3 separate regions of the Homo sapiens genome follow, and regions 1 and 2 are each linked to region 3. Evidence: fine-mapped expression QTL. A gene starts in region 3. Each other region holds a variant in brackets. All regions are shown on one strand. Distances are from middle to middle.

Evidence for each region. PIP is the estimated chance that this variant, and not a neighbour inherited with it, causes the effect.
Region 1: its variant is fine-mapped to the expression of FNDC1 in tibial nerve (GTEx, PIP above 0.99).
Region 2: its variant is fine-mapped to the expression of FNDC1 in testis (GTEx, PIP 0.97).

Annotation. Positions count from the first base shown.
Region 1 is chr6:159,435,111-159,437,866 of GRCh38, reverse strand. No RefSeq gene overlaps it. Among named protein-coding and RNA genes, the nearest start is that of LINC02529, 53 kb to the right of the region's middle. The variant A/G (reference allele first, on the strand shown) is at 1,237.
Region 2 is chr6:159,127,950-159,130,705 of GRCh38, reverse strand. No RefSeq gene overlaps it. Among named protein-coding and RNA genes, the nearest start is that of FNDC1, 40 kb to the left of the region's middle. The variant A/T (reference allele first, on the strand shown) is at 1,036.
Region 3 is chr6:159,167,775-159,170,530 of GRCh38, reverse strand. FNDC1 (fibronectin type III domain containing 1) reads right to left here and starts at 1,131. Exons shown (of 23, transcript NM_032532.3): 1 at 826-1,131. The coding sequence starts at 934. FNDC1-AS1 (FNDC1 antisense RNA 1) reads left to right here and starts at 524. Exons shown (of 4, transcript NR_121668.1): 1 at 524-719; 2 at 1,770-1,998. RefSeq lists an enhancer at 1-276 and a silencer at 1,083-1,252.

The DNA of each region.
Region 1 (2,756 bases), 270 kb before region 3:
CTAAAGTTTTCAAAACTATTTTGCTCATGGATTGGGAGCTCACTCACAAATGGACCTCGGTGTTCACTTCCCATTGGTCTGCCTCCGCTAGTAGAGAAAATCGGGCTTGTGTGGCAGTAATTTGGCAAGTCAAGTCCTTCATTCTCACTTCCATGTTTGAAACATGGCTTCTCAGTTGTGCTGTGACTAAGACCCAGTTTGGGGAGTTTAATGGATTCTGGGCTTCATAGACAGGAATCCAATTCATCATTGAAAAGATGAAGTATACAATTGGGATGGATCAGGGAGAGAACTTTGATTACGTTCTATTTGAAATGTTTTTTTTTGTTTGTTTTTTGCTAAACTTGTTAAATAATAACCCTGCTGTTCCAGAGGAAGTGATACTTTACAAAAAGAAGATTCATCTCAAAAAAGTCAAATATAATTATACTTGAGGATTTGAAATTTCCTGATGGAAACAAATCTGTAGAGTAATTTTGGGAAATATGTGCATTTCTAGCTATAACCAGTGTTCCACTGGGTCTCTTAATGCAGGGGTCAAGACATCTGCAAAGTGTCTTCAGATAAGTCCTGGGATGGGTCTCCAGGGGGCTCTTGAGCAAGTCCACCCTGCACTGTGTGGCCCCAACATTTTCTCCCTCTTTTGCTCGGCAGTGGGGGCTCCCCTCCTGTGAAGCTCTCCAAGATGCCCTGCACTGATTCGGGTGCTCCGCAGCGAAGCCCCTTTTGCCAGGTGCCCCTGCCACTGCCCGGCTCCCCAGCTGCTTGGCTGCCATCTGCCTCCATTCCTGCTGCGGAGGCCTGGAATGCCCGGGATACTAGGGCCACTCTGCCTTCCATGCTGAAGAAGGAAGATGTCTCTGGTCCCTTTTGTCCCCAATATTTTACACATACAGAAGAATGTAAAGAATTATACGGTGGTTCACATAGCCACATCTAGATACATCGCAGCTGTTGGCCGTCAGCTCTCTTTCCTTTCCACATATCTGTGCAGCTACCCATCCATCCAGCTTATTGTTTTTAGACTTTTCAAAGTCAGCTGCAAACATCAGTGCCTTTGTTCCCACACATGTCATTAACTGGAGTCCAATATTTGTTGATGTTCTTTTGTGTTCCGTCAGCTGTACTGCCTTGAATGTTGATGTTTGGAGTTTTAAGAGAAAGAAGCTCATTCAGCTTCAACCATAACCCCTAAACCCCCGTTCCCACCTCCGTCTCTCCTCAGGAATCAGATGG[A/G]GGTGGTTCTGGGCCAGAGACAAATCTAAGGGAAAGAATTGCTGTTTCTCCTGCACGGCAGAGGAGCGGCTGCTGGGTAAGCAGCCCTTTCTGGCTGTCTCTCTCCAGGTGAGGTGAATCATCTCTCTGGAGGCTCCCTGAGCTCTCAGGTAAGCAGATTCTGAGCCCCTTCCCCACCGGCTTCAGACTCGAGGGTTCCCAGTGTCGCTGCAGCAGCTGCTCCTGCTGAGGTGTGCAGGGGAAGGGTTTTGAGAGGCTTCTCATCTGCAGAGCTGGTGTTAACAGGCAGACAAGCATTGCTCAGGATAATGCACAGGGGCTGGAATGGGAAGTGTCTGGCACTCAGAGGTGACCTGGAGGCCTTGAGGTGCACAGTTTGTCATCATCGTAATCAGAGCTGAGATGCACCAAGCACCTCCCAGCGCCAGACCCGGGCTGAGAGCTCACTGCGTGTGCCTAGCGTGCTCTTCATACCATCCTCGCTCTATCATTATCCCCTTTGCACAGATAAGACCTGTTGGTGACCATGATCTTGGCAGCTGTGATAAGAATATGTATAAACCCAGCCAGAGGAGCTGGTTAGGACAGATTTTTCTGGCAGAAAGTGGGGTTGGTGGTGTAAATTGTAGGTTTTCAGGTGCGGTGAAGCCAACAGATGAGACGATTGCCATTGTCACTCAGTTCCCGAGAGGAGGGTCACACTATGATGCTCAGGGCCCCATGCGGAAGCACCAGGGTTGGGCAGGTGGCAGAGAAGCTAGAGGAAACACAGGCAAGAGCCTCGGCCGAGGTTTCCGAGGGAAGAAACTGGGGAGATAGGATGAGCAGGCTTAGGACCGGCTAGTGTGAATAATTTCTGTTGGGTCTGGGGCATAGGGGCTGTTTCCAGTTGTCTGGCACCTGGCCCTGGGGTGATTACGGCAGGGGAATAGAGGCCCAGCATGGCAGAGCCTGCTAGAGGAGACAGGGTCTGCATGTGGGCTCTGGACTGTGTGGTTTGCACATGAAGGGCACACTCATGGGGGAGTCATTTGCTGTCTCTAGGACTTGACTAGCCCTGGGGGGAGCAGTCCCTCCAGTGTCAGTGAGGATCTAGGTGTCAAAATTTCAGAAACACGTGGTTAATACTGTGGGATGGGGCAGGAAGCACCTATCAGGTATATTTGAACATCTTCTCGCAGCCATGCAACCTTCAGCACCCTACGGCACCCACGTGGTTCCTCGTGAACTGTTAATCAGCACATTTCTGGCCATTTGGAGAATCTAAATGTGGAGTCCTTGAATGATACTCCAGAGCTTCATGGGGCCCAAGTGAGACTGTAAGGTCCTTCTTATGGCTCCCAGGGAAGTGGCCACTTTCCACTGCCTTTGGACTAGCCACCAGAGTCACTGTTGCTCTGCCCCTTGGCTTGCCTTGAAACGCTCTCTGAGATACTCGCACTTCTGGTGAGAAGGTGAGTGTGGTGTCCAGGTGCTCACTGTGAAGATGGGCAGGCATTATTTGGAAGAAGTGGAAGAAA
Region 2 (2,756 bases), 40 kb after region 3:
CCTGTTCTAGCATCATTTTCTCATTCTCAGTCCATCTTTCACCTGGTTGAGGTACATCTTCAGGAAAGATTTTCAGGGCAGCCCCACCTCACAGCCCAGCGTGCAGCCTCTGCTCCCAGCCTCCGCTTTGGAGGGTGATGCTTGGCCTCTCTCTGGCTTCACTTCTTCCCACCAGCTGAGGAATCCGAAAGGCCAGAGAGGTGTGCCCACCACAGACCATGTGCCCCTCTGGTCCCCTCCTGACACCCAGGGCCCCGGAATTCCTGGCCACAGAGGCCCTAAGTCTGCTCTCAGGGTCCACATGGGCCTCCTGCCAGGTGTGTCTCTGGCGACTAATCAGGGCCGGACCTCCCACAGTGGAAGGGGCAGTTTCCTCAGAGACACACGCAGTGGCTTGGGAATGGAAGAACACCGGAACGGCATTGCTATTCTGTTAAGAAAGCGCTGATGGTGGGGCAGGGGCAGGTGAGGCACCGAGCCAGGCTGGGCACTGCTGTCAGGCGGCAGTAAGAGCAGGACCCAGCTCCACGCGATGCCACCTTGAGATGGCGCCACAGGTGACTGGCGTCCCCTTGTCCTGGAGCAGAGCTTCCACCAGGGCCTTCAAGTAATCATGAAAAATGAGAGGATATATTTTACTTAAGAGTGTATTACCTTGAAGTGTGATTTATCAACACCACTTAAGTACAGGTATGTAGATTACTATTTGTTCTCTTGCCCCAGGACCCAAAATGAATAGAATGAGCCACTAAGAGAATATTTCTGGACCCTTTGGTATTTGAAAAAGTCTTTCTAATGTCTTTACTCATGAAAGCACCATGGCTGGATATATAGCTCTTCACACAGAGCCTGAAAGCTCCTTAGACAAGCATTTCCCAAAATCACGCAGTGGGATCCAGGTCCCATAAATGCTCCAAGATAAAAGAGTTCGACAACCTTTTCTGGCAGGGGGAAAGGCAGTGTAGCTACGATTTGGTAAATAAAGCACTGTAACCGGAGTAAGACCCACCATCTGCCTTCCTCCAGAGGCCACAC[A/T]TACCTTACCATGAATCCAGAGGGAAATGGGTCTGTCCACGGTGTGTCCAGGAAAGCAGGAAGAAGGAAGGGAAAGCTGTATGCCAGATTCAAAGAGTCTATCTCTTTATTCATGTTGCAAGATTTTCTTTCATTTTAAAACTACCTTGTTCAATTGATATGTAATAACTCAATGGCCAGTTGTAATTCTGGATGTTTCCTGAAACAAGAAGCCATCAGGCTGTGTTGGCACAGAGGGGCGACCTTGCAGGGACTCGCCACCCACCCTGACTTCACCGTAACTTTTGATAGGATGACCCCCGTATGTGCCCAGCAGTCACCGAGGGCGTCCAGTGGACGTGGTCGGACGATTGTGAGCTCAGGCTGCCAGGCCAAGCGCACAGGCCGGGTAGAGACGGTTTAACGTGGTCCACAGCCACCACTTTGCAGCTCGAGGCCTCCCCCTCGTGTAGCCTGTTTGTAGTTTTCTACGACTGTTTCGTACAGCACGGGCTCCATGCGTCCCAACACCGCAGGAGCACACCCGCCACTGAGACGCGCGTGCGGGGCCAGTGCAGCGGTGTCCCGGGTCTCCTCGCACTCAGCTCCCTGCCGGTTCCGGCCACCGAGCACTCTTGTCGGGGAGGCCTCTGATGGGCCTGGGGAGGGCAGGGGGCTCATCCCCTGAGGGAGTGGCCTCTGCGTCACTGTGCCCTGCCTTTTGGCTTGGACTTCAGTCCTCCCTCAGGAGTAAAGAGCTCTTCATTACCAAAGGGGCTGTTGGTTCCGTGACCAGCACCGACAAGAGACAGCGGAACAGCCGAGCTGATGTCCCATCGCTCTGGGAATTCCTGACGCTTTTACTGTGAAGATGAAGCAACCGTAATAGCACGAAGATCGTGGGTCTGTGTGTCTGTGAAGAGAGTCCACCTGCTAGGAGCCGATGAACAATGAATGCCCTGCCCTGCTTGTGTTGCGCGTCGCCAGGCCCGCAGCTCACGTCCCAGAGGATTCCTTGATGTGAATTGGTTGTGCCACAGCAGCAGTTCTGGAAGGAAACTAGGAAGCTAGACTGTACTTTTTGTTTAACCACCATTCACCAAACCGATTTGGAATCTTCTTTTTGGTGCTAGCTGGGGAAGAATGCACACGTGCGGTCTGTTGTGATACGTTTGTGATGGTGCCTAGTGTGGCTCCCAAGAGCACTGCAAGCTCTCAGAAATGCTCTCCCAGGCCTTCAGAGGAGGGAGAGGTTCCTGGGGAAGGCAGGGAAGCCTGTTTCTGTCCTCACACCAGAGAAAGAAACCTAGGAGACAACTGAGACGTGAAATTCCCAGTTTAAGTCCGTTTTTCTTTATGAGGAGGGTCATTTGGAATGATAGCCTCGCTTCCTTCCGGTGGCTGCAGCTATGATATCTTTTCCTCCTGTTTTCTAATGTGTCACTGAGACAGGAAATAAAGCAGAAAGGGACTTGTGAAGCTCTGTCTCTCAGACGGGACCCTCCCCGCAGGAGGTTCACAGGGAGTGAATGAGAACGAGAACATCCCACAACGGTCCTGGTCAGGACGGTCTCCACATCCATGATCCCGTGGTTCCTGGTCCCCTGGTTCCAGGGATGTTTCTGGACTGCCTGTGCTTCCCGGGAGCCAGCTGAGAGAGCAGGGTGTGCTCTCGGATGCTGGTGGGTATGGTCAGTGGGCACAAGCGGACCCTTCCCAGGCGGCAGGTGCCAGGCAGGTGC
Region 3 (2,756 bases):
GTGGTAACAAGGGCCGCCAAAGGCTTAGGAATGAAAACCTCGCCACAAACTTGTCTCTCTCTGCAGGAAGCTTGCAAGAAATCTGACAGGAGCGCGCTAGCATTTTCTGAAAAGCATTGCTCTCAAAGGAAGCATCCATCCTGGCTGCAGCCTCAGCCATTGGGGAAGGGCGAGTTTCTCTGGAATCAGCTTTCTCATTTCCCTCTCCCTCCTCTCAAGACAAACATTTTCTCCCAGCTTGAACGTTCCCCCCGGGCGCGCGGGCCTCCTGCCGCCTGGAGCCGAGCTGGCACTGGAGCGCTTCTCCTCTGGAGCGCAGAGGCACCCGACGCCCTGCGGCAGCTCGCAGCCTTTCCCCCACGACCTTCTAGAACAGCCCTGCTCTGCCTCCCTCCGGTCTCCCGAGTGCGCCCGTCATCCTGCCTCGCGAGAGGTGAACGCGGAGAAAGTAGGATGACCACCTACGCTCCCGAGAAATTCTGGGCAAAGAAAGGCATTACCCCAGTCCGCACGCTGAAAGTCGCCTTTCTTTTCCTTTTTTCCCCGCTGTGCCTGAATCTCCCGGGACACTTAGACGGCTGGAGCCTCCCGACTCCAAGGCGGGCGACGGCAAAGTTAAACGCCAGCGCGCTGCGGTCCCCGGGCACCGAGGCGTCCCCGCTCCCGCCACCCACACAGGGCGCCAAGTGCCCCGACCCGCGAGTGACGAGGACGCACAGGCTAGTGACACGACCCGTAGCCAGCACTGAGCGGGACGACGGGGCCCGAGCGCAGGAGGGTGCGCGGGGAGCTGAGGAGCGCCGGGGGCCCGGGCGCGGCGCGTACCTGAGGCCGCCGCCGAGGAGGCGACGGGGAGCAGCGCGGCCAAGAGCAGCAGCGCCGCCCAGGACAGCCGGCGCGGCGCGCGCAGGGTCGCCCCGGCCTCGGGGGCCATCGAGAGCCCGGGGTGGGCCGGGGCTGGGTGCTTGCGGCTGGCAGGGGGGCGCTGGCCGGAGTCTGGGGAGTGCCGAGGCGCCGCCGTCGGGTCCCCGCCGCCGTCCGTCTGTTCTGCGCGCTCTGCGCGGTGCCCGCCGCGCCCCTGCCCCGCGGCGATCGCTCCCGGCCGCACACCGGCAGCCGCGCTCCGCCACTGAGGCCGCCGACCTCCCGCCGAGCCTTTTAGCTGCGCTCGGGCGCCCCCTGCCGGTGTGCGGGGCCGGGGCCAGGGCCGGCGGGGGCGACCCGGGCGACAGGGGCGACGGGGGCGGCGGGGCCCGGGCTGGAGGCGGGCGGGGCGCGGGACGAAGGGGCCGGAGCGCCCCGGACTGACTTAGCGGTTCTGAACTTGGGGCGGTCGCTGTGCCGGGCCAAGTGGCTGAGGAAGTTCCTCCCCTCGTCTAACCCTCTCATTTTCTGGCTGGGGAAGTCGCCCATCGCGCCGAGGAGTGCCCTTTGTCCCCTTACAGAAACACCTCTGCGCCCCAAGTGGGGACTCGGGCCGGGACCCCTCACCCGGTCCGCAGCGCTGTAGTTCCTGTGGCTAGCCCAGTCCTTCCACGTCCCTACCCGCACCCGGCGCGCCCACGTCAGGGGTTTTCAGCGTCCTTAGACCCTGCTCCGTCTGGCTGTCATTTCTAGGGCGCGCACGATGCGGGTCGAAAAGGAACCCAGTTTTCAGTGTGCCTTGTTGCCCAGGCCAAGGACTCAGCGGACCTCGCCTCTCCCTTTTCTGTAATTGTAACACTGCCCCAGGTCTCCCTATTCCTCCTTCTCCCTATTCCTCCTTCCAGCCTGGAAGCCTCGCGGCCCTCCAGATGGACTCGGAGCGCCCCTGGAGGCTACAGTGACCTAAGCTCTAGGAAGGCCGGGTCCTGGACGCCGCGTGCTGCTGTCCGCCGCCGACCGGTGTCCTCGCAGAGATAACCTGGCTGAACTCACCGCCCAGCGCTATGTCAGTTCTCCCTCATGACAACCCAAAACTTGACCGGATTTGTGTTCTGCAGAGAGGAAAAAAAAAAGGTAAATGAATTGCAAAGAGATGAAAACCAGAAATACAGTATCTCTTTGAATTTGAGCACCCAGGAAAGGTGTAAACCTACCGCCTTCCTTTCCAGGAAACTCTCCTGCTTCCCAGCAAAGGTTTTTGTTTGTTTGTTTTTCTTTTTCTTTTTGTTTTGAGACAGGGTCTCCCTCTGCCTCTGCCGCCCAGGCTGGAGTGCAGTGGTGCAGTCTTGGCTCACTGCAACCACCATATCCCAGGCTCAAGCCATTCTCCTGCCTCAGCCTCCTAAGTGGCTGGGACTACAGGTTTCAGCCACCATGCCCAGCTCATTTTTGTATGTTTTGTAGAGACAGGGTTTCCCCACGTTGCCCAGGCTGGTCTCCAACTCCTGAGCTCAAGCAATCCGCCCACCTTGGCCTCCCAAAGTGCTGGGATTACAGGCGTGAGCCACCACGCCCAGCCCAAACACACTTTCCTGCATTACTCCCTTATGTTATCATGTTTCCCCACATGCCATTTAATGGAGCTGTGTGGTTTCTGTCTCACCAGCAGCCACCCGGCTCTGCCTATTTTGGGGGAATGGTAGCTCCCTCCCCAACTCCAACCAAGTGACAGGCCCCCTCCTTACTCCCACTCCTTCCCAAAGCCCCACTTCCCCACTGGCTCAGGGCTCTGCAGTGGCCTAGACAGGGTCACTCAGAGTTGGGACTCTTCTAACACGGGCTGGTGGAAAGGTCTCTTTCTCCCATCATTCGTGGATTTGGAAGGATGGTAG